2 separate regions of the Homo sapiens genome follow, and region 2 is linked to region 1. The links come from fine-mapping of genetic effects on gene expression. A gene starts in region 1. The other region holds a variant in brackets. All regions are shown on one strand. Distances are from middle to middle.

What was found.
Region 2: its variant is fine-mapped to the expression of CDC123 in skeletal muscle (GTEx, PIP 0.95).

Annotation. Positions count from the first base shown.
Region 1 is chr10:12,188,491-12,199,743 of GRCh38, forward strand. CDC123 (cell division cycle 123) reads left to right here and starts at 7,698. Exons shown (of 13, transcript NM_006023.3): 1 at 7,698-7,829; 2 at 10,215-10,286. The coding sequence starts at 7,756. NUDT5 (nudix hydrolase 5) reads right to left here and starts at 7,401. Exons shown (of 10, transcript NM_014142.4): 1 at 7,280-7,401. RefSeq lists enhancers at 1,588-2,438, 7,445-7,714.
Region 2 is chr10:12,247,003-12,260,198 of GRCh38, forward strand. CDC123 (cell division cycle 123) reads left to right here. Exons shown (of 13, transcript NM_006023.3): 12 at 2,579-2,716; 13 at 3,309-3,587. The coding sequence ends at 3,335. Among named protein-coding and RNA genes, the nearest start is that of CDC123, 57 kb to the left of the region's middle. The variant A/G (reference allele first, on the strand shown) is at 3,453.

The sequences.
Region 1 (11,253 bases):
GGGAGGCCAGGGCGGGTGGATCACGAGGTCAAGAGATGGAGACCATCCTGGCCAACATGGTGAAACCCTGTCTCTACTAAAAATACAAAAATTAGCTGGACGTGGTGGGGTGCGCCTGTAGCCCCAACTACAGGGAAGGCTGAGGGAGGAGAATGGCTTGAACCCAGGAGATGGAGGTTGCAGTGAGCTGAGATCGTGCCACTGCACTGCAGCCTGGCGACAGAGCAAGACTCCATCTAAAAAAAAAAAAAAAAAAAAAAAAGTGGTGGTGAGAGGGACAAAGACCCTCACTCCCCCGGACCTCATTTTCCAGTGAGGAGAAAGGAAAAACAGTGAGGAAGAACACAAAATTTATGTCAAGTGACTCAGCGTTTCATGAAGAAAGATTAAAAAGGATGAGAAGTGTGGGGAAGATGGGAAGAGTAATCTACACGGAGTGATCAGGCAAGGCCTGTTTAATTTGGTGACTTCTGAATGGAGACCTGAAAGCAATAAGGAAGTAAACCACGTAGAAGTTTAAATATTTAGAGACAGACATTAGCATATTGAAACCTGCAGCCCTACTAAGAAAACAGGCACTTATTCCTTTGAAAGTACCATAGATGATAATTTATTAGGTAAACTTTTTTTTTTGAGATGGAGTTTCGCTCTTGTTGCCCGGCTGGAGTGCAAAGGCATGATCTCGGCTCACTGCAACCTCTGCCTCACGGATTCAAGCGATTCTCCTGCCTCAGCCTCCCGAGTACCTGGGATTACAGGCTCCTACCACTGCACCCGGCTAATTTTTACATTTTTAGTAGAGATGGGGTTTTGCCATGTTGGGCAGGCTGGCCTCGAACTCCTGACCTCAGGTGATCCACCAGCCTCAGCCTCCCAAAGTGCTGGGATTACAGGCGTGAACCACCGTGCCTGGCCGCTAAAAGAGAGTATTTCTTTGGAATGCAATCAGCCTCAAAGGGAAACAGTATCGTGCAGCAATCCACTGATTCCGTGAATGACAAAAATGAGCTATTTCAAGAGCATATTCTTAACTATGAGATTCCCAAACATTTCAGAAGGACTGTAAAAGTACCTCAGAAATTTTTAGAAACAGAAAAGGAATGTTGTTTTTAGCACCATTTCAAAAGCAGAAGCCAAATAGTGCCATTCGGGGGCCAGTCACTGCCAGCAACACGCTGCAGAAAGAACGAGAAATGAGCTTTAAATTCCGTGCTTTGTAAGCCAGCGTCTCCGCCACTGCAACGGAGTTTGCCTTCACTGACTCAACGCTATTTCAAGATTTAAAAGCAAACTTTGATATAAATTTTATCCACTTCATTAGTTAGAATTTAAGGTAATTTGCATATTGCCAATATGTGTATGGTATGAAAAAGATACATGTACACGATGTTGAGTGTTCTACAATTTTTTTTTTTTTTTTTGAGACAGAGTCTTGCCTTGTCGCCCAGGCTGGAGTGCAGTGGCGCGATCTCCGCTCACTGCAAGCTCCGCCTCCTGGGTTCATGCCATTCTCCTGCCTCAGCCTCCCAAGTAGCTGGGATTACAGGTACCTGCCACCATGCCTGATTAATTTTTTGTATTTTTAGGAGAGACGGGGTTTCACCGTGTTAGGATGGTCTCGATCTCCTGACCTCGTGATCCACCCGCCTCGGCCTGCCAAAGTGCTGGAATTACAGGCGTGAGTCACCGCGCCAGCGAGTGTTCTACAATTTCATTTATGATTTTCCTTAGTCTTTAAAGTCACAAGCTGTTTTAATTCTCATAAATCGTTTTAACTCAGTTCAGTTTGAACACTGAAGGTCTAGGATGTGTTGGATGTGTAATTCTCCAGAGCATAAAAAAAACACTAGTGAGGGGAAATGCTGTAAGATTTTTAGACGTCTTGCACAGTGGCAGGCTAACTAGCAGTCTCTAACTAGCTTCGAGAGCACCAGCAGTGGAAACGTCTGTGTATATACTCAGTGCACACTGACCACTATGCTTGCCCTTGAGCACGTTACAGTTTAGCAAGCACATCTGGGGCAAAGACCTGCCTCAGAGACACCACCATACCAGGATGTTTTAAAGGAGGGACACACACATCCCCTTGGGAGGCAGTGAGGAAAATGATAAAGCCTTTTTTTTTTTTTTTTTTTTGAGACTGAATCTCGCTGCAACACCCAGGCTGGAGTGCAATGGCATGATCTCGGCTCACTGCAACCTCCACCTCCCAGGTTGAAGCAATTCTCCTGCCTCAGCCTCCTGAACAGCTGGGATTACAGGCCTGTACCACCACACCCGGCTGATTTTTGCATTTTTAGTAGAGACGGGGTTTCACCATATTGGCCAGGCTGGTTTCGAACTCCTGACCTCAAGTGATCCACCCACCTCGGCCTCCCACAGCACTGGGATTACAGGGGTGAGCCATCACACCCAGCCAAGATTTTTAAAAGATAGTTTGATGTGAAGACATGGTTTAGAGACCAAGAGTGCAGAGAAAGCATTCCAACTAGAAGACACCACATGAACAAAGGCAGAGACACCGGGGCAAGGGTGAGAAATTCTGAGTGTATGGCGAGCTCTGTGGTTCTCAAGCTCCTCCTCCACTTTCTCCTTTAAAAAACAAAGGAAAGGCCGGGCACAGTGGCTCATGCCTATAATCCCAGCACTTGGGGAGGCCGAGGCGGGTGGATCACGAGGTCAGGAGATCGAGACCATCCTGGCTAACATGGTGAAACCCCATCTCTACTAAAAATACAAAAAAATTAGCCAGGCTTGGTGGTGGGCGCTGTAGTCCGGGCTACTCAGGAGGCTGAGGCAGGAGAATGGCATGAACCCGGGAGGTGGAGCTTGCAGTGAGCCAAGATTGCGCCACTGCACTCCAGCCTAGGCGACAGAGCAAGACTCCGTCTCAAAAACAAAAACAAAACAAAACAAAAAAAACCACAAAGGAAAAACCACCACCACAAAACTCCCAAAACAACTCCACATATAATGATGATTTGCGAACACATTTCTAAGGCCATACACAGATTTGGCTGGATCTCTGCCCCCAAAACTGCAGGCCAACAAAGCACACAAAGCTAACTGGCATGGCACAAATTACTGTTGTGATATGAGGTAGTTTTGGGGGCCAGTGCCATGCACTGCATGTGCCTATAGTCCCGGCTACTTGTGGAGGCTGAGGTGGGAGGATCGCTTGAGCTGAGGAATTCATGATGACCCTAGGAAACATAGTGAGATCCTATGTAAAAAATGAAAAAACAAACACCAAAATAAACTAATTTTGGGGTTAGGCAGCAAGTACAGCCCTCTACAGAAAGGGAGGAAGTGATTAATTTTTCACCAACTTCAGTATGCCAGTATTAGTAACAACAGCTGCATAAAGAGTTAAGTGGGAGTTTAGATTCCAGAAGTTAAACTATGAACTCAAAAGCCTGGTTCTGCAGTTGGCACTGAGGCTCATTACTCAATCACCGTACCCGAATCCCGGCCATCTGCTGAGGCTGCAAAGTGAAGCAAAAAATCCTAACAAGAAATTGTATGTTGGCTAGGTCTCTCCTGATAAAAGATGAATATTGTTAATATCAACAATACTCAACCAAATACAAGATGCAGGAGCCCACATCATAAGTAGAGCCTCTGACTGACAAAAGAGGGTCAGGCACTTGGAACAGTTTAATAATTGAATAGGGAAATCAACAAGGCACTTTGAAAGAAATTAAGTGGGGAGCTGAGGCAGGAGAATCGCTTGAACGAGGGAGGTGGAGGTTGCAGTGAGCCGAGATCATGCCACTACACTCCAGCATGGTGACAGAGTGAGACTCTGTCTCCAAAAAAAAAAAGAAAAGAAAAGAAAAGAAATTAAGTGGGAGAGAGGATCAATTTTTTTTGCAGTAATAACTTACTTTATGATTGTCTTGTTAAAGTCAGGCATCAAATTGGGCATGTCTAAAGTGGCAATCTACATTCTGGCAGAATAATTACAAAGAAAAGTCACTTGATTTAGAAGGAACAAAGAATCAAATAATTTGCAGTTATATTTAATAATTTTGGTCATAGTTAAAAATTTTTAAATTCTATTTTTAAAAGATAATATTCTGGCCGGGCTCGGTGGCTCATGCCTGTAATCCCAGCGCTTTCGGAGGCCAAGGCAGGTGGATCACTTGAGGTCAGGAGTTCGAGCCTAACCAACATAGTGAAACCCCCATCTCTGCTAAAAATACAAAAAATTAGCTGGGTGAGGTGGCACACGCCAGTAGTCCCAGCTACTTGGGAGACTGAGGCACGAGAAAAGCCTGAACCTAGGAGGCAGCAGTTGCAGTGAGCCAAGATTGCACCACTGCATTCCAGCCTGGGCGACAGAGCGAGACTCTGTCTCAAAAGAAAAAAAAAGGATAATATTCTGATGTATCCTTCTTTTGTGCCATTTATGGTAAAAAATTTGGGTACCCACAATTGAATTCACTTATGGGTTTTTTTTTCATTCTCTTCAGGTGTGGCAGTTGGGTGGGCAGGGAGTAATTAACGTTTACTGAAATTATGCTACTTGGTGATCTCCAGGAATCATTTAGCAGGTGGTTTAAAATCCTCACATTTAATGCTGGTTGAGCAAGAGTGAACTGACTGTAATGACCCTTGGGAAGGTGAATTGGTTACAGACGTATAGTAACGACACTGTAAAGATAGTCCAGGCAGGAGATGACAGGTCTGGAGTAGAGTGGTAGCCGTGGCAAAGTGACATTTAATTTCCACGAAGACAGTTTTAAGGGAGACTGGGACATCGGAAGAAAAAAGGGGTGATGCAGAGCTCAAATCTGTACACGCTTGTTTGAGGTGATAGCAGACATCCAGATGAAGAAAACCAGCAGACAGGTGAAAATCTTAATCTAGGATGATTAGTCATGCTATGGATTCAGAGAAAGAAATGTGTTTTTTCATTACTTCATTAGGAATTGCACAATAAATCTCCTCCCCCATAATCACATGACTACTGACTTTTCAGCATGCAGGAGAAAAAGCAAATATTTCCACTGTTGAAAGGTTTTATTGGAGAAACTTGATGAATACAATGACTTCATGGCTTAGTGAAGACAACCACGGTGGTTAAAATACAGTGAACCCTCATTTAGCTGTATCCATTCAAAGTATTTGAGCATCTCCTATGTATAATGTCAATTTATTTGATGCTGGTTAAATGTGTAACAAGTTACTTAAAACCAACTGTAATACCAAAAAGTCATTGAACACACTTCTAAAGTATACTGCCTGAATAAAAGGTATCTATAAAAATTCCTTCCCTGTAGTATCTATATATTTAAGCTTACAAACTTAGCTGCTTTTCTACACACAACTGCAATTCTATATTAAAGCTTTGCAACTGCCTTAATCTCTACACTCTTTTTTTTTTTTTTCCCGAGACGGAAAAAAAAGAGTCTCGCTCTGTTGCCAGGCTGGAGTGCAGTGGCGCGATCTCGGCTCATCGCAACCTCCGCCTCCCGGATTCAAGCGATTCTCCTGCCTCAGCCTCCCGAGTAGCTGGGACTACAGGCATGCGCCAACACGCCCGGCTAATTTTTGATATTTTAGTAGGGACGGGGTTTCGCCATGTTGGACAGGCTGGTCAAACTCCTGACCTCAGGTGATGCGCCCGCCTCGGCCTCCCAGAGTGCTGGGATCACAGGCATGAGGCACCGCGCCCGGCCTATGCTCAAATGTTTCTTGGGCTGTTAAAGTACTGCTCCTCGCAGAAGGGCTATGTTCCCGGGATCTATTCTCTTCCGTACATTCATTCCTATCTTCATTAGAAAACATCTGACCTAAATAAATCCCCCATCGATGCTAACATCTCCTTCCGCGCAATTTTTTACTTTCTAAGTCAAATCAAAACAATTATTTGAGCGACTGCTCCTGTCTGCCATTAAGTCTTTCTGGCACCACCCTCCAGACATATATACAATATTGCTTCTTTCCCTCAAATCAGAAAGGACTGCATAGTTCCGGATCAAGGCATAAATGATGAATCATGACTGTCCATCCCCACCAACATACTCTGCAACATTATAATCTATTTACCTCTGCTTTGAAAATGTATTCTTTAAAGCACTGCTTCCAACTAGCCACTTAGCCAGTAACATTTTTGAGAAAAACAAAACACAACCCAAAACAATGTATATATTCCTGGGGGGAAGAGTTTCTAACTCAAAATACGCAGATAATTGTTTATTATTCTAAGGAACACCCTTCTGAAGAGGCCTGCAGTCGGTGGGGCTGTTTCTAATTTAAAACTACTTAGGTGAACCAGGAAGAATGTACATTTAAGGAGATACTTTTAGACGCAGATGCCTCGCGCAAGCCTAAAGCTCGTGTGGTAAGCGACACGACTAGGGGTTAAAAGCGGCTGGTTGGTAGGCCCGGGGCCGTGGCTCACGCCTTGTAAACCCAGCACTTTGGGAGGCTGAGGCGGGCAGATCACCTAAGGTTAGGAGTTCGAGACCAGCCTGGCAAATATGGTGAAACGCCGTCTCTACTAAAAACACAAAAATTAGCCGGCGTAGTGGCGCGCGCGCGCTCTCAGCTACTCGAGAAGCTAAGGCAGGAGAATCACTTAAACCCAGGAGGCGGAGGTTGCAGTGAGCCAAGATTGCGCCACTGCACTCCAATCTGGGCACAGAGTGAGACTCCGTCTCAAATAAATAAATAAAAGCAGCTAGTTACTTCTCATTCTTTTAACGAAACAAACAAAACTGAACTTTGCTGGGTGACAGGAGTGAAGCAAAGGAAAAAACGATAGTACAAGTTCGATTCGAATTCTTCCAGTCTTATGATTCGATCATCGCAGGAATACTGATAAAAATCTGCGTTTTTTCCAGGTTGACAACTTTTGCGAGGCCAGACTAAACGAATTCAGCGCTCCAAGGAGACTCCTCTTTCCTCTGCTTTCTCACATTTACCTCTCGCCTTTTACCTCCCAAAGTCGAACCCTCCAGGATCGTACAGGCGGTATTCCCTCTACCAAGCATTCTACTCCTCTGCAGATGCTGCAATCTTTACACTGGAACTAACACTTAGCTGTGGTGTTCCCCGCTTTCTTTACTCGGAGTAGCCCAGGCTCTTCCTCTCCAATCCACAATTTCCCTCCAATCCCCAGTTTCCCTCTTGGGCGCCTGGACGCGTGCCCAGCCGCAGCCTGGGAGACACCGCGCGGCTGCACGCACCATGCAGATGTGGTCCCTTTCCCCTTCTTCTTCTCCTCCCCAAAGAGGTTTTGTGCTGTGACTGGCTTGCCCCGGTTACTTACTCCAAGGTGTAGGGGTGAAGAACGGAAGAGGACGAAATAACTAGCTGGAGGCAGCAGTGTCAGCCGATGCCGGTGCCACGGCTCGAAACACCGGCGCCTCTCGCGGTGCTAAAAGGATGGGCGCGCACCCTCCTTCCGGCATCCGTAGAACCCCCGCCTTTGACCTAGCTTCAGGAGATTACTTTCCGGGTCAGCGTGCGTTTAGGGCGAAGACGGAGTTGTAAACTTCTTAAAATTCCTCTCTCGACACTTCGGTAATTCCTCTTTCGAGACTAAAGCTCTTTTTGTATGCGTGTGTGTCAAGCGTATGCCCCGGGATTCTCCTCCGCTTCCTTTTCTCGGTCTTCCTTCTTGCTTTAGGGACCGGAAGAGTCCTTGAACCAAAATAGCTCGGCGGGCACTTCCGGGGCCGGCGCCCAGAGTTCCGGGAGGGTGCAGGCAGGAGAGGGAAAGGCAGCAGCGGCGGCAGCTGGAGGATGAAGAAGGAGCATGTGCTTCACTGCCAGTTCTCCGCGTGGTACCCGTTCTTCCGAGGCGTTACCATCAAGAGGTGAGATGGGAGGGGGTTCGCCCGGTCGACCGGCAAAAGGGAACTGCGACTTCTGAGCGAATCTTACTGCTATCCAAAAAAATGCAGGCCTTCTAGCGACTGCATGGGAGGGAGTGTGTCGAGAGGGAAGTACATCAGCAATTGTCTGCGTCCTGTTGCGAGCCAGCGAGTGTGCTGGCTAGGAGGGTCAGTTGTGGTTTTCAGTGAGGGTCGGAGGCGGGAGGAATAGTGGATTAACCTAGTTTAGGCTTGGGAGTTCACCACCACTACTTTTAGAATGGCCCCAGGCGCAAGGTGATCACTGCCTAAGTGCACTCGGAGAATTAATTGCTTTTCGCCATCACCCCAGAGGATGGAGATTGGGAAGGTGAAAGGATACGTAATTACAGTTAGATACGAGAACAAGTTCACAGATATGTCGTACAGCATGGAGGCTATAGTTAATGACGATATACGTATTCTTGAAAAACGGAGAGTGGATGTTAGTGTTCTCACCACAAAAATAACTATGTTAGGCAATGCATTTGTTAGCTAAATTTATTCCACAGTGTATATATACTTAAAAACATCAGGTAGGCGGCAAGTATTAATATATACAATTTCATCTCTCAGTTTTTTTAAAGGCGTTGATAGAAAATCTGGGCTTTGCACTTAACTGATTTTCTGAGCCAACATTTCAGTAATTGCTGATTCATTATATGATGGTTTCATTCAATAAAGATCGGATATGTACTTGAAAATGTGTAACTGGCTTAGAATGGTTAAAATGTATAAGAAAAGTTTCAAGTTCTTAAATAGTATTGGAATGTGTGGTAGAACCTTAGATTCATTGTACTTAACAATTTCGCTTGTTAGCTTTGTAAGAGTAAAATACTTAGGAAGGCTTATTTGTAATCAGCAAATAGACATATTAAGAAAGAAAATTGAGTGGTTTATGAATAGAATTTAAAATTTTAAAGAGACTTTTAAGTTGCAAAGTTTCGCTTGAAATTGTTTAAAATTTAGTAGATTTTCAAACGTAATAAGATTTGTTAGAAGAAATTAAAAGCCTGAAGAACTAGATTTTTTTTTTTTGAGACAGAGTTTTGTTCTGTCGCCCAAGCTGGAGTGCAGTGGCAGCGATCTTGGCTCACTGCAAGCTTCCCTTCCCGAGTTCACGCCATTCTCCTGCCTCAGCTTCCTGAGTAGCTGGGACTACAGGCGCCCGCCACCACCCCCGGCTAATTTTTTGTATTTTTAGTAGAGGCGGGGTTTTCACCGTGTTAGCCAGGATGGTCTCGATTGCCTGACCTCGTGATCCGCCCGCCTCGGCCTCCCAAAGTGCTGGGATTACAGGTGTGAGCCACCGCGCCCGGCCAGAACTAGATTTTTGAATGTGAAATTGTACCTTTGATAAATCAAATATTTATTTTTAAAACCGAAGTTTTTGCTCTGTCGCCCAAGCTGGAGTGCAGTGGCAGTGATCTTTTATTTATTTAAAAATAAATAAAAATACTTATTTTTAAAACCGAAGTAGCCCATGAATACTCTTTTTTGTGCAAAAAAACCATTTGTAATGTGCCAAAAAAAACTTCTTCCATAAATAAATGAGACATGTTATAAGTCATTGATGTTCTGTTAACTTCGGGAAAGCAGGCTGTAATCTTTTCCACTTTTTGAAGATGTATATGCCTCAAAATCAAAATAATACCAGCACTCTTAGGGATCTGTGGTAGGGCTTTTTGATAATTTATTATTTCAAGGTAAAAAACAAATTATCCCATAAGTTTTTAAGAGACTTCAGGTATGGCTTTGCCATCCTTAATTATGATTACCTGAAACAAATTAAGCTAAAGCATGCCTAGTTTAAGCAGCTTTATATCTCTGGTGATCAGTTGAATAGAAAGCCAGCAAGACACATCCAAAAGTATCATGAATTCTTAGCGGTAGGTGCTCACTGCCAACCCAAGAATGGTTTCCAGATCTTGACTCTACTTCTGCCCTCTATCTTTAGAAGGTGACCAAATGCTAGTCATCTTCTAGTTGGGTTTGCTGCATTTCCTGTGTTGCAGCAAATATCTGCTGGTCTCTGATTTCTTAAAGACACATAAATGTTGTGCTCACTCAGAATCCTTTTGAGCTTGTTGCTTTCATACTGTGATTTCCATCTGGTGGTTTGGATTTGGCTGGTTTTTGTTTACTACAAAGACCATTGTGGCAATAAGATGAACCGCAGTAATCTTATTATTCTGATTTCTTGTCTACTGCTACCAAATGTACATCATTAACATTTTCTACTTTATATTAAAAGAAAGACAATTCCAAAATTAATCAAGTGTAGAGATTTTTCTCTCTGCTTATAGTTGGTCTTTTAAAATGATGCCTTTTTTGGTGTTTTTTTTTTAGTGTCATTCTTCCACTTCCTCAGAATGTGAAGGATTATTTACTCGATGATGGAACTCTGGTGGTTTCAGGAAGGTAAAGTATTTTAGAAAAAAATTTCTTAAACTTTATCATAAAGAAACACATAAAATGAATGAATTAGCTTAGGCACCATTCTTTCCCTTTAGCTCTTTTTCTCTCCTAGCCAAAATGATGTGCTGATCTTTGTCTCATATTCCTTCTCAATGTTCACTTAATATTTTCAACATTAAGTACTTTTCCCTCTAATAATTACAAGTTGTGAAATTGAGCAGTTCCTTTCATCTCTGTCTTTAGAAAACAGTTATGATGACAACTTTTCCTTCTGACGGTAGCAGGGTGGGGGAAGTACATATTAAAATTCTTTGAGATCCTTCAGTTTTGACGATTAAAAATTCACTGTTGCAAACAGGCTTTATCATCTAATTCCTCAACATTTTCTTCCCCACGATTGAACTACCGTGGCCCCCCCTCCACTTTCTAGAAGCTGTTCAGGTAGTTTCCCTATTTATAGAATAAAGGGAAGAAGTTACTGTGTTTCAGTCTTTTGGATGCAAACTTGAAAACGTTGAAGAATCATAGGATTTAGTGAAGTTCTCATTTTTTAATTCGAGTCTGCTCAGAAGTCACGTTATGAGTGTTCAGCCCTCACCAGCCTTTCTAAAATAGCCTGACAGTAACCCTATGCCCTGACCTCCCTTCATTTTTCTGCATAACACTTACTTCCACCTGACAATTGTTAATTGTTCCATTAGAATGCAGTTTCATGAAAACAGGGACTTGGCCCATTTGTTCACCCCAGCTCATGGAACAGTGCCTGATATAGCAGAAGTGCTTGATAAACATTTGTTGGATGAAGGAACTATAGAAATACAGTAAGAATTGTGTGTTTTCAGTACTACTAACTGGACCCCATATTTTTGCCTGTTGGGTTTTTAGTGTGGTTTTCTGGATTATATTTCTGTTTTTGGTATTCACAGAGCCTCAATAACCTGAAAATTATTAATGTAGCGCCTCATTAACT
Region 2 (13,196 bases), 59 kb after region 1:
TCACCTCCCACTCTGGACACTGTGTCCTCCTCTCTCACCGCCCACTCCGGACACTGTGTCCTCCTCTCTCTCACCTCCCCCTCAGGACACTGTCCTCCTCTCTCACCTCCCACTCCAGACACTGTGTCCTCCTCTCTCTCACCTCCCCCTCAGGGCACCGTGTCCCCCTCTCTCACCTCCCCCTCAGGACACTGTCCTCCTCTCTCACCTCCCACTCTGGACACTGTGTCCTCCTCTCTCTCACCTCCCCCTCAGGACACTGTCCTCCTCTCTCACCTCCCACTCCGGACACTGTGTCCTCCTCTCTCACCTCCCCCTCAGGACACTGTGTCCTCCTCTCTCACCTCCCCCTAAGGACACTGTCCTCTTCTCGCACCTCCCACTCTGGACACTGTGTCCTCCTCTCTCACCTCCCACTCCGGACACTGTGTCCTCCTCTCTCACCTCCCCCTCAGGACACCGTGTCCCCCTCTCTCACCTCCCCCTCAGGACACTGTGTCCTCCTCTCTTACCTCCCCCTCAGGACACTGTGTCCTCCTCCTCTTTCTCCAGATGCCCTCTGCTCTTTTTGCAATTCTTCCTCTCTATCAACTCTGTCCATCCGGATTTAGTCATGCTCAGATACCTCCCATCCGAAAAAAACAAAACATTGTTCAACCCGGTTTCTTCACCCAGCCACTCTCTCCTTTCCTGCCAGCTTCACAGCCAGACTTTCCTGAAACAACTTTGTAGTGCTGTTTTCTGCCCATAAAAGTAACATGTCCAAGACGGGCGGATCAGGAAGTCAGGGTATCGAGACCATCCTGGCTAACACGGTGAAAACCTGTCTCTACTAAAAATACAAAAAAAAAATTAGCCGGGCGTGGTGGCGGGCGCCTGTAGTCCCAGCTACTTGGGAGGCTGCGGCAGGAGAATGGCATGAATCCGGGAGGCAGAGCTTGCAGTGAGCCGAGATTGTGCCACTGCACTCCAGCCTGGGCGACAGGGCAAGACTGTCTCAAAAAAAAAAAAGTAACGTGCTCATTCTTAAAGAAAATTATAAAATCACTTATGATTTGAGAACCTTGAGAACCAGTGTTTATATTTTGATACATAACGTGCATTTAAACACATGCATAGACCTTTGTAAATAAATGAAATCATACTACATACTCAATTACATGTCCTGAGATTTTCACAGTGTTCTCTTGTGAGCATTTTATATCTTTTAAAAAATAGTTTTGGGCCAGACGTAGTGGCTCACACCTGTAATCCCAGCACTTTGGGAGGCCGAGGCTGGTGGATCACCTGAGGTCAGGAGTTCGAGACCAGCCTGGCCAACATGGTGAAACCCCGTCTCTACTAAAAATACAAAAAATTAGCTGGGCATGGTGGCAGATGCCTGTAATCCCAGCTACTTGGGAGGCTGAGGCAGGAGAATTGCTTGAACCTGGAAGGCGGATGTTGCAGCAGTGAGCCAAGATCACGCCATTGCACTCCAGCCTGGGTGACAGAGCGGGACTCCGTCTCAAAAAAAAAACAGGCCAGGTGCGGTGGCTCACACCTGTAATCCCAGTACTTTGGGAGGCTGAGGCAGGTGGATCACCTGAGGTTGGGAGTTCGAGACCATCCTGATCAACGTGGAGAAACCCCGTCTCTACTAAAAGTAAAAAAATTAGCCAGGCATGGTGGTGCATGCCTGTAATCCCAGCCACTCGGGAGGCTGAGGCAGGAGAATCGCTTGAACCTGGGAGGTGGAGGTTGCGATGAGCTGAGATTGCTCCATTGCATCCAGCCTGGGCAACAAGAGTAAAACTTCGTCTAAAAAAAAAAAATTAGTTTTGGCAGCTGGGCATGGTGGTTCATGCCTGTAATCCCAGCACTTTGGGAGGCCGAGGCAGGCAGATCACCTGAGGTCAGGAGTTTGAGACCAGCCTGGCCAACATAGTGAAATCCCTATCTCTACTAAAAATACAAAAATTAGCCGGACGTGGTGACGCGCGCCTGTAGTCCCAGCTACTTGGGAAGCTGAGGTGGGAGAATCACTTGAACCTGGGAGGCAGAGGTTGCAGTGAGCAACAGAGACCTGGGCAACAGAGATCGTGCCCCTGCACTCCAGTCTGAGAACAGAGCGAGACTTTGCCTCAAAAAAAAAAAAAAAAATAGTTTGGCATGGGTGCAACAGCCCACCTAGCCTATAATCTTAACACTTTGGGAGGCCAAGGCAGGAGGATTGCTTCAGCTCAGGAGTTCAAGACCAGCCTGGGCAACATACTGAGATATTTTCTGTACTAAAATTTAAAAAACTCAGCTGGGCGTGGTGGCGCATGCCTATAGTCCCAGCTACTTGGGAGGCTGAAGTGCGAGGTTCACCTGAGCCCAGGAGGTCGAGGCTGCAGTGAGCCACTGCACTCCAGCTGGAATTACAGACGTGAGCCACCGTGCCCGGCTCATTTTAACTTAAGCATCTTCCTTTCTCCTCATCAAGTACAGAGGAAAACATGGAGTTGAAATTGTTTTGCTAGGTTCTTTTTTAGTTCACAGAATAGGCCTAAAAATAAATGATTGATATTCTTTCTCCTTTTTCTTCTTTGTACAGGATTCCCCAGCTTTCCGTTGCACAAACAGTGAAGTGACAGTCCAGCCCAGCCCCTATTTGAGTTACCGGCTACCCAAGGACTTTGTAGACCTCTCTACTGGGGAGGACGCTCACAAGCTAATAGACTTCCTTAAGCTGGTAAAGTCTATGTGCATTTAGTATGCTGGCCATCTTTTCAAATAGACCTTCAAATTGGCTTTTATATAATATTTCATTGGAATCCTGTATCACCTAGACTTTGATGGTTATGAATGGAACCAAGTTACTGAGTTAGAGCATTTTCTAATTAAATATGAAATAGGAGCTGAAGGCATAATTTATTGATTAGAATGACAGAAAATGTTTTTATGCTGTACATGCCTTTTGAACATTTTTCAAAATACTTGTAACTTTGAAGAAAGTGTGTATATTGTTAGAAGGCTGTAAGGAGAGCAGGTCTCTGCTCTGGTGGTGATTTTACTCAAGAGGGGATGTGAATATTTATATTTTTGTGTGGATTTCTGTGTAGGAGTTTTTGTATGTATGGAAGAAAGAGAAGAAAATACTCAAATACCTGAGGATAATTTGCTCAGGAGTCAAAGTGATAAACTAGTTTAATGAATTAAAGCATGGTTTTCCATGACAATTTTTAATTACATCCTTTGCCAAGACCTCTAGAAAATTACACCTGCTGAGCAGATATCCCAAGGAGCATGTGCTATTTTAACATCCCCTTGGTTTTCTTTGACAGAAGAGAAATCAGCAGGAGGACGACTGATGAGCGTACTGGAACTGGAGAAGAGGAGGCCCCGCCCCACCGCTCCGGGAGCTGCTCATCAGCCGCAACTTCCTGCCGACCCTGATGCGGGTGGGCCGAGCAGTGTGGACATCAGCC[A/G]CTTTTTATATTCATGTACATTCACCTGGGGAAAAAAACGGAGGGACTTTGCTACTTGTAAAAATAACATAATAAATAGATCTTAAACATAGGAAAACCATACTGTTCTGATAATAAAATGCTTTCTATGAAATACGTTGCTTTTCTACCGAGTCATTATTTTATTTATTTATTTTAATTTTAATTTTTTGAGACAGTCTCGCTGTGTCGCCCATGCTGGAGTGCACTGGTGCGATCTCGGCTCACTGCAACCTCCACCTCCTGGTTCAAGCGATTCTCCTGCCTCAGGCTCCCAAGTAGCTGGGATTACAGGTGCATGCCACCACACCCAGCTGAGTTTTATATTTTTAGTAGAGGTAGGGTCTCACCGTGTTGGCCAGGCTGGTCTGGAACTCCTGATCCTCAAGTGATTTGCCCACCTTGGCCTCCCAAAGTGCTGGGATTATAGGTGTGAGCCACCACGCCCGCCCTGTTTTGTTTAGGGACAGTCTTGTTCTGTTGCCCAGTCTGGGGTGCAGTGGCACAATCACAGCTCACTGCAGCCTCAATCTCCTGGACTCAGGCAGTCCTGCCTCAGCCTCCTGAGTAACTGGGACTACAGGTGCACACCACCACGCCCAGCTGATTTTTGTATTTTTTTGTAGAGATGGGGTTTTGCCATGTGGCGTTTTTAAAAGGCCACCATTTTTAAGTGATGATATCAATTGTGCCTAATTTACCGAGGCTTTATGATGTGCCAGACATTCTACTAAGAGCTCTTTCTGTATTAGTTGACATCACCAAGCAATTTGAAGGATACAGACATCACAATTTCCCAGGGTACCTGCCCGACGTGGTATCCGGTGGTAATCTTCGTCCTCAGTACTTGATCTTTGTATTCAGTACATCAGATGCCCTTTTTTTCTTTTTTTTAAGTAGTAGAGATGGGGTTTCCCTGTGTTGCCCATACTGATCTCAAACTCCTGGCCTTAAGCAATCCTCCTGCGTCAGCCTTCCAAACTGCTAGGATTACAGGTGTGAGCCACTGTGTCTGGCCTCAATTGCCATTTGTGGGGCCAGTTGTTTTTTTGTTTGTTTTTGAGATGGAGTTTTGTTCTTGTTGCCGAGGCTGGAGTGCAATAGTGCCATCTTGGCTCACCGCTACCTCTGTCTCCTGGGTTCAAGCGATTCTCCTGCCTCAGCCTCCTGAGTAGCTGGGATTACAGGCATGTGGCACCATGCCCAGCTAATTTTTTATTTTAAGTAGAGATGAGGTTTCTCCATGTTGATGGGGCTTGTCTTGAACTGCTCACCTCAGGTTATCTGCTTGCCTCGACCTCCCAAAGTGCTGGGATTACAGGTGTGAGCCGCCGCCCCTGGCCTCAACTGTTTAATGTACAGGTACTTCAGAAATACTTTTGTTTTTTTAAACTGCTTACAGGTGCCTATCCACCTATGATGGATTTAGTATCAAGGGTTGATTTTAAGTTTAGCTCTGGAAGCTGGCTTTGTCAAGATGGCATTTTACCAAGCCAAAAAAAAAGTAAATATATTTGATACCAATTGAAAACATTCAGACTAGGCTGGATGTGGTGGCTCATGCCTGTAATCCCAGCACTTTGGGAGCCCGAGACCGGCAGATCATCTAAGATCAGGAATTCAAGACCAGTCTGACCAATATGGTGAAATGCCATCTCTACTAAAAATGCAAAAATTAGCTGGGTGTGGTGGTGGGCGCCTGTAGTCCCAGCTACTTGGGAGGCTGAGGCAGAAGAATGACTTGAACCTGGGAGGCGGAGGTTGCAGTGAGCTGAGATTGCACCACTGCACTCCAGCCTGGGTGACGGAGCGAGCCTCCATCCCCCACAAAAAAGAAAACTATATTCAGACTATATAAAATAAAAAGACCCAAGCAAAATTTGGCAGAGAGTTCATAAACTGTACAATTCTCATTACACTTTTGCGCACATTTTCCTGGGGAAACTGGACTTCAACTCCCAGGTCACTTTCTAAAATGTGATTTTTGTGCATTGTTTACTTAGTGTATTTAATTTTAGTTGATTTTCCTGATGTTAATATCAGGAAATATAGGATACTATGCAGGAAATATTCTCCTAAAGCCCAGTATAATTTATGCCTGCCTAAAAATTACTTCTGTTTTAAGACAGAGTCTCACTCTATCTCCCAGGCTGGAATACAGTGGCACGATCTGAGCTCACTGCAACCTCTGCCTCTTGGGTTCAAGCAATTCTCCTGCCTCAGCCTCCTGAGTAGCTGAGATTACAGGTATGCATCACCACATCCAGCTAATTTTTGTGTTTTTAGTAGAGATGGGGTTTCACTATGTTAGTCAGGCTGATCTCAAACTCCTGGCCTCAAGAGATCCGCCCGCCTCGGCCTCCCAAAGTGCTGGGATTACAGGCGTGAGCCACCGCGCCCAGCTCTTAAGTTTTGAATCGTCCTTTTATTTTACTGGCATTTGTTCTTTCTTTGAGGTACCTCAGGCTTGTGCTTGAATTCAGAAAATGGAAACCTGTGTGCTTCCTCAGCGTGTCCCTGCAGTCCTTCCTTCTGAAGAGAAGACGCTGCTGCAGTTGCCTTTGAAGGGTTGGGGTAAATATGTGCTTTGTCCTGCAGGTGGTGTCATGTCGCATGGGCCTCCTGGAGACAGCACGCTTTGCCAGTTTTGTTTTCAAGAGTCTCATTTGATTTGCATTTTCTGAGTTCGTAAGGTTTTCTCATCTCAACCATTTCTCTTTTTGATGATTGAGGATCGTTAAAAAACAAGCAGAAACCTTATGTGACAGTTTTTTTGACTAAGTTTGTTACCTGCAAAGGGTAAGAAGAGTTTTCTGGAGTCCGTTAAGTGAGATAACTCATAAACCTGTAGCGTAGTGCACTGCACGTCACAGACCACAGACAAATGGTAGCTATTGTCAATCATTCTGCTTGGCAGACTTCTGTACAGTATATGAAAGGCACGTTCTTTTTAACAGAGTCAAGAAAAAAATATATATATATATTTAGTAGAGACGGGGTTTCGCCATGTTGACCATGGCTGGTCTCAAACTCCTGACTTCAGGTGATCCATCCACCTCAGCCTCCCAAAGTGCTGGGATTGCAGGTGTGAGCCACCACGCCCAGTCCCTTCTTTTCTTTTTTGACAGATGACGAAACTGCTCCCCAAAGATGTTGACTTTCCCAAAACCTTCCCTGTAGCAGGATCTAAACATTGTTTTATTCACATGTTGTCCTTGGCTCATGCTAAGGAAAGAATAAATCACGGTAAACTTACCACTCACACACAGTGCAGGTATGTATACACCTTAGAAAGATACAGCTGAGCACGGTGGCTCACGCCTGTAATCCCAGCACTTTGGGAGGCCGAGGCGGGCAGATCACAAGGTCAGGAGATCGAGACCATCCTGGCCAACATGGTGAAACCCTGTCTCTACTAAAATACAAAAAATTAGCCGGGCACGGTGGTGCATTCCTGTAGTCCCAGCTACTCGGGAGGCTGAGGCAGGCGAATTGCTTGAACCCGGGAGGCAGAGGTTGTAGTGAGCTGAGATCACGCCACTGCACTCCAGCCTGGCAGCGGAGTGAGATTCTGTCTCCAAAAAAGAAAAAAAAAGAAAGATGCTTGAGGACTAGGCCGTGCATGGTGGCTCATGCCTGTAATCCCAGCACTTTCGGAGGCCGTGTTAGGTAGATTGCTTGAGGTTAGGAGTTCAAGACCAGCCTGGCCGACATGGTGAAACCCCGTCTCTACCAAAACTACAAAAAATTAGCCAGGTGTGGTGGTGCGCACCTGTAATCCCCACGATTTGGGAGGCTGAGGCAGGAGAATCACTTGAACCTGGGAGGCAGAGGTTGCAGTGAGCCAAGATTGTGCCACTGCACTTCAGCCTGAAACAGCAAGATTCCATCTCAAAAACAAACAAACAAAAAGATTGAGGAACAGAAATCTAAGACATCGTAACAAAAATGTAGTGAAGAAATAGCTAAAAGTTATACGGTTAGGCAAAAAGTCTGGCATGAATGACCTAAAGAGAGAATGCATTCAGGTGCGTCTTTTTTTTTTTTTTAATCAAAGAAAACCAAAATAAAATGATACTGGCAACATAGTAAGACCCTGTCTCTAAAAAAAGTTGTTTTTTTTTTTTAAAGACAAATTAGCCAGACATGCTGGTGCATGCCTGTAGTCCTAACGACATAGGAGGCTGAGGCAGGAGGATCGCTTGAGCCCAGGAGTTCAAGGCTGCAGTGAGCTATGATCTCACCACTGCACCGCCTCCCCTCCCCGCGCAAAAAAAAAAAATAGATAAAAAGGAAAGAAAGGAAGAGTCCTGGCGCGGTGGTTCACACCTATAATCCCAGCACTTTTGGAGGCCAAGGTGGGTGGATCACCTGAGGTCAGGAGTTTGAGACTAGCCTGGCCAACATGGTGAAACTCTGCCTCTACTAAAAACACAAAAAAATTAGCCAGGCATTTTGGCACGTGCCTGTAATCCCAGCTACTCAGGTGGCTGAGGCAGGAGAATTGCTTGAATTTGGGGGGTGGAGGTTGCAGTGAGCCGAGATTGTGCCACTGCACTCCAGCCTGGGCAACAGGCACAGAGCCAGGCTGAAGCCCTAGTGTTCTCCAAACTGTCACCCCAGACTCACAATATGTACTAGATAAATTGCAGGTCGTCTTCTTTTCTTCCTTCCAACTGAGTTCATTCCCCCACCCTCCCTCTGTTTTCTCCTCCTAAGAAGTCATTTTGTTCAGCCACAGTTTATAAGCAGGGCCCACTGTTTAGGTCTGAGGAACAGGACAGGGTTGTACTAAGCACTTAGGCAATGATTCTTATCTGGGAAGGGCTGACAGCTTATTCTTTAATGTCTACAAATTGCTTTGAAGACAAAAAATGCTACAAAAATGTCAAGTAATGTTATTGCTTTTAGGAACATTTGTTTTCCACCTTGTGAAAGGCATATATCTCAGGTCAATGAAAGCTCAAGCTTCCAAAGCCAGACTGAGTTTCTCTCACTTACAAAAGAAGCATAGCCTCCTTTGCATGTATTGGTAATGCTGAGAGCATTGGAGTTCTTAGTTCTTTACAAAAAAAAAAAAAGTCACCAAAGAAAGAGGACACCAGGAGGCCGGGCACGGTGGCTCATGCCTGTAATCCCAGCACTTTGGGAGGCCGAGGCAGGTGGATCATGAGGTCAGGAGATCAAGACCATCCTGGCCAACATGGTGAAACCTCGTCTCTACTAAAAATACAAAAATTAGCTGGGCGTGGTGGCACATGCCTGTAATCCCAGCTACCTGGGACCCTGAGGTAGGAGAATCACTTGAAACAGGGAGTCGGAGGTTGCAGTGAGCCGAGATCGGGCCACTGCACTCCAGCCTGGCGACAGAGTGAAACTCCGTCTAAAAAAAGAAAGAGGACACCAGGAGCTGGACGCAGTGGCTCAAGCCTGTAATCCCAGCACTTTGGGAGGCCGAGGCGGGAGGATCAATTGAGGTCAGGAGTTCGAGACCAGCCTGACCAACATGGCGAAACCCCCGTCTCTACTAAAAATACAAAAATTAGCCAGGCGTGGTACTGGGCACCTGTAATCCCAATTACTCGGGAGGCTGACGCGGGAGAATCATTTGAACTCAGGAGGCACAGGTTGCAGTGAGCCGAGATCATGCCATTTCACTCCAGCCTGGGCAACAGAGCGAGACTCTGTCTCAAAAAAAAAAAAAAAAAAAAAAGCGCCAGGTAGGGACATAGGAAAGAAGGAATGGAGAGGAAGGAATACTCTCAAATACTTTTTTTTTTTTGGAGACTGGGTCATGCTCTATTGCCCAGGCTGGAGTTCAGTGGCATGATGATAGCTCACTGCAGCCTCCAATGGCTGCCCTCAAGCGATCTTCCCAACTCAGCCTCAGATGTAGCTGGGACTATAGGCACACACCACCATGCCTGGCTGATTTTACTTTCATTTTTTTTGTTACCCAGGATGGTTTGGAACCCCTAGACTCAAGTGAACCTCCCGTCTCAGCCTCCCAAAGTGCTGGGATTACAGGCATGAGCCACGATGCCTGGCCACTCTCAGGTCCTCATGGGGAAATAAATGGAGTATAAATGGATACAGCATTGTAAACAGACAATTTAAAAGACAGTCCGTGCAGAAAGGTCACTGGTACCTCTCAATGAGTTTATAGGTATGAGGAGTGAAAAGGACATCATATGGCCACCTCTCATCACCCTTGGTGGCCACAGACTTGTCTTTTTTGAAATCAAAATGAGAATGTCCAAATCAATCTTTTTTTCTGGCCAGCAGGGGGGAAGGGGGGATGGAGTCTTGCTCTCGTAGCCCAGGCTGGGGTGAAATGGCACAATCTTGGCTCACTGCAATCTCCGCCTCCCAGGTTCAAGCAAGTCTCCCATCTCAGCCTCCCTGGTAGCTGAGATTACAGGCACCCGCCACCACGCCCGGCTAATTTTCGTATTTTTAGTAGAAACGGGGTTTCGCCTCCCAAAGTGCTGAGATTATAGGCATAAACCACCGCGCTAGGCCCGAATGAGTCTTAAGAAAGGAGAGACAAAGATCCCAGGGTATGATTTGCTCACTTCTGGATTTTGAATGCAAAATAATGCTCCCCCAAAACTCGAATAATGGGAAGAAGTATGGTCAATCAGTTAAGCAGTTTTGGTTGCAAACAACAGAAACTAACTCTAGTTAATGAAAGCATGTACTGGAAGGATGTGAGGTGCCTCAGGAAATTGGCGCAAAGTGTGTAAGCTCCACAGAGAGAACGGAGACTGGGAAAACTTTGGAGACGCAAAAGACACTATCCCAGGACTTAGCTACTAGAGAGATTCTGCCTTCTGTCCTGATGACACTGGGCTCAAGATTCAGTATCCGGCTGGGTGCCATGGCTCACGCTTGTAATTCCAGCACTTTGGGAGGCCAAGGCGGGTGGATCACCTGAGGTCAGGAGTTTGAGACCAGCCTGGCCATCATGGTGAAACCCCATTTCTACTAAAAATACAAAAATTAGCCATGTGTGGCAGCGGGTGCCTGTAATCCCAGCTACTCGGAAGGCTGAGGCAGGAGAATTGCTTGAACCTGGGAGGCAGAGGTTGCAGTGAGCCGAGATTGCACCATTGCACTCTAGCCTGGGCAACAAGAGTGGAACTCCATCTCAAAAAAAAAAAAATTAAAATTATTTTTTTGTCTCCCAGGCTAGAGTGCAGTGGCATGATTATGACTCATTGCAGCCTCAATTTCCGAGGCTCAAGCTATCTTCCCACCTCAGCCTCCTGAATAGCTGGGACTACGGGAATACACCACCACGCCTGGCTAATTTATTTTTATTTTTAGCAGAAACAAGGTCTTGCCATGTTGCCCAGGCTGGTCTTGAACTCCTGAGCTCCAGCAGATCCTCCTGCCTCAGCTTCCCAAAGTGCTGGGATTACAAGCATGATCCACAACGCCGGGACCCTTCCCAGTGTTCTCTATGATCCTTTCTGCATCTCCATCCAGTACCCTCAGGACCTCACATCTGTCTGTCTGTAATAACCAACCAGTTGGGCTTGCAAACCTGCTTCTATCTTCCTCCTGCCTTTCTTGTTTGATATAGATTCCATATACCCCATGTAATTTCACTCTGATCTGTGTAAACTTATTTTCCACGACCCTTAAAACATCCTCAGCTCCCAGCAAGTCTGCCTTCTCCATGTTCTTTCAATATCCGCGGCATTCCTGCTTGCTGCCTCCCCTCGAAGCTTCCTGCTCACCTGGAATATGAATGCCCTCCTTAAGCTCATCTGTTCATTTAGGCCAGAGATTCTCAGTCTTAGTCGTATATTCTTTTTCTTTTCTTTTTTTTTTTTTAGACGGAGTCTTGCTCTGTCTCCCAGGCTGGAGTGCAGTAGCGCGATCTTGGCTCACTGCAAGCTCCGCCTCCCAGGTTCACGTCATTCTCCTGCCTCAGCCTCCCAAGTAGCTGGGACTACAGGCGCCCGCCACCACACCCGGCTAATTTTTTGTATTTTTAGTAGAGACGGGGTTTCACTGTGTTAGCCAGGATGGTCTCGATCTCCTGACCTCGTTATCCACCTGCCTTGGCCTCCCAAAGTGCTGGGATTACAGGCTTGAGCCACAGCACCCGGCCATATACTCTTTTTCTTTTTCTTTCTTTTTTTTTTTTTTCCACATAGAAACAGGTATGTGCATTGGGTGGGGTGGGGGGGGGGTCTTGCTATGTTGCCCAGGCTGGTCTCAAACTCCTGACCTAAGGATCCTCCCACCTTGGCCTCTCAAAGTGCTGAGATTACAGGCATGAGCCACTGCACCCGGCCCCTAGTTGTGTATTCTAATTACCTGGAGAGTATTTTTTTCTTAATCAATGGAGAATACTCATCCAGACCAATTAAACTGAAATCTCTGGGGCCCAGTAGTTTGTTCTTGTTTTTGTTTTTGTCTTTTGCTTTTGAGAGGGAGTCTCCCCTCTGTTGCCCAGGCTGGAGCATAGTGGTATGATCTCTGCTCACTGCAACCTCTGCCTCCCGGGTTCAAGTGATTCTCCTGCCTCAGCCTCCTGAGTATCTGGGATTATGGGTGCCTGCCACCACACCCGGCTAATTTTTGTATTTTTAGTAGAGATGGAGTTTCACCATGTTGGCAGTGGTTGGCCAGGCTGGTCTCAAACTCCTGACCTCAGGTGATCTGCCTGCCTCGGCCTCCCAAAGTGCTGGGATTACAGGCATGAGCCACCAGCTGGGCCCAGTAGTTTGTTGTTTATGTTTGTTTGTTTGTTTTGAGACAGAGTTTCACTCTTGTTTCCCAGGCTAGAGTGCAATGGTGCAATCTCGGCTCTTCACAACCTCTGCCTCCCGGGTTCAAGCAATTCTCCTGCCTCAGCCTCCTGAGTAGCTGGGATTACAGACATGTGCCACCATACCCGGCTAAATTTTGTATTTTTCAGTAGAGACGGGGTTTCCCCATGTTGGTCAGACTGGTCTCCAACTCGTGACCTCAGGTGATCCGCCTGCCTTGGCCTCCCAAAGTGCTGGAATTACAGGCGTGAGCCACCGCGTCCAGCCAAGGCCCAGTAGTTTTAAACATCCCCCAAATAATTCTAATGTACTGCTAAGGTTTAGAACCCCTATTTAAATATTAGGCCTTATGTGAGCATCTGTTAACCCCTCCTGCTCCTAAGGCCCTCCCAGATCAATGTAGCCACTATACCTTTGTCCTCCTTCTTTGAGCTTCTAGAGAGCTACAGTCCACATTATCAAACCAGCAGCTCGTTACCTGCTTTATTGTATTAATTGCTAGTTGTCTAGGTGTTTGTTTATATGACAAGCTCCTGAGGCAGGAACAAAATGCTTAGATTAATAAGCTTTTCCAGATAATGAAATATAATACAAAATAGATGGAGACACCCTCAAGAGTATTCCAAGTCACTGCGAGCGGGCAGGAGAGAGGAAATTGTCCCCACAAAGTTCATATGTTGAAGTCCTATAACCTTCATACCTGAGAATCTGACTGTGTTTGGAGACAGGCCCTTTACAGAGGTGATGAAGCTAAAATGAGGCCTTCGAAGTGGGTCCTAATCCAATATGAGGGTGTTCTTATCAGAAGAGGAAATCTGGACACAAAGACACCAGGGATGCCCAAGCGCAGAGGAAAGGCCACATCCAGGACACAGCAAGAGGGTGGCCATCTGCACACTGTGGAGAGAGACCTCAGAAATGCACCCTGCCGACACCCTGA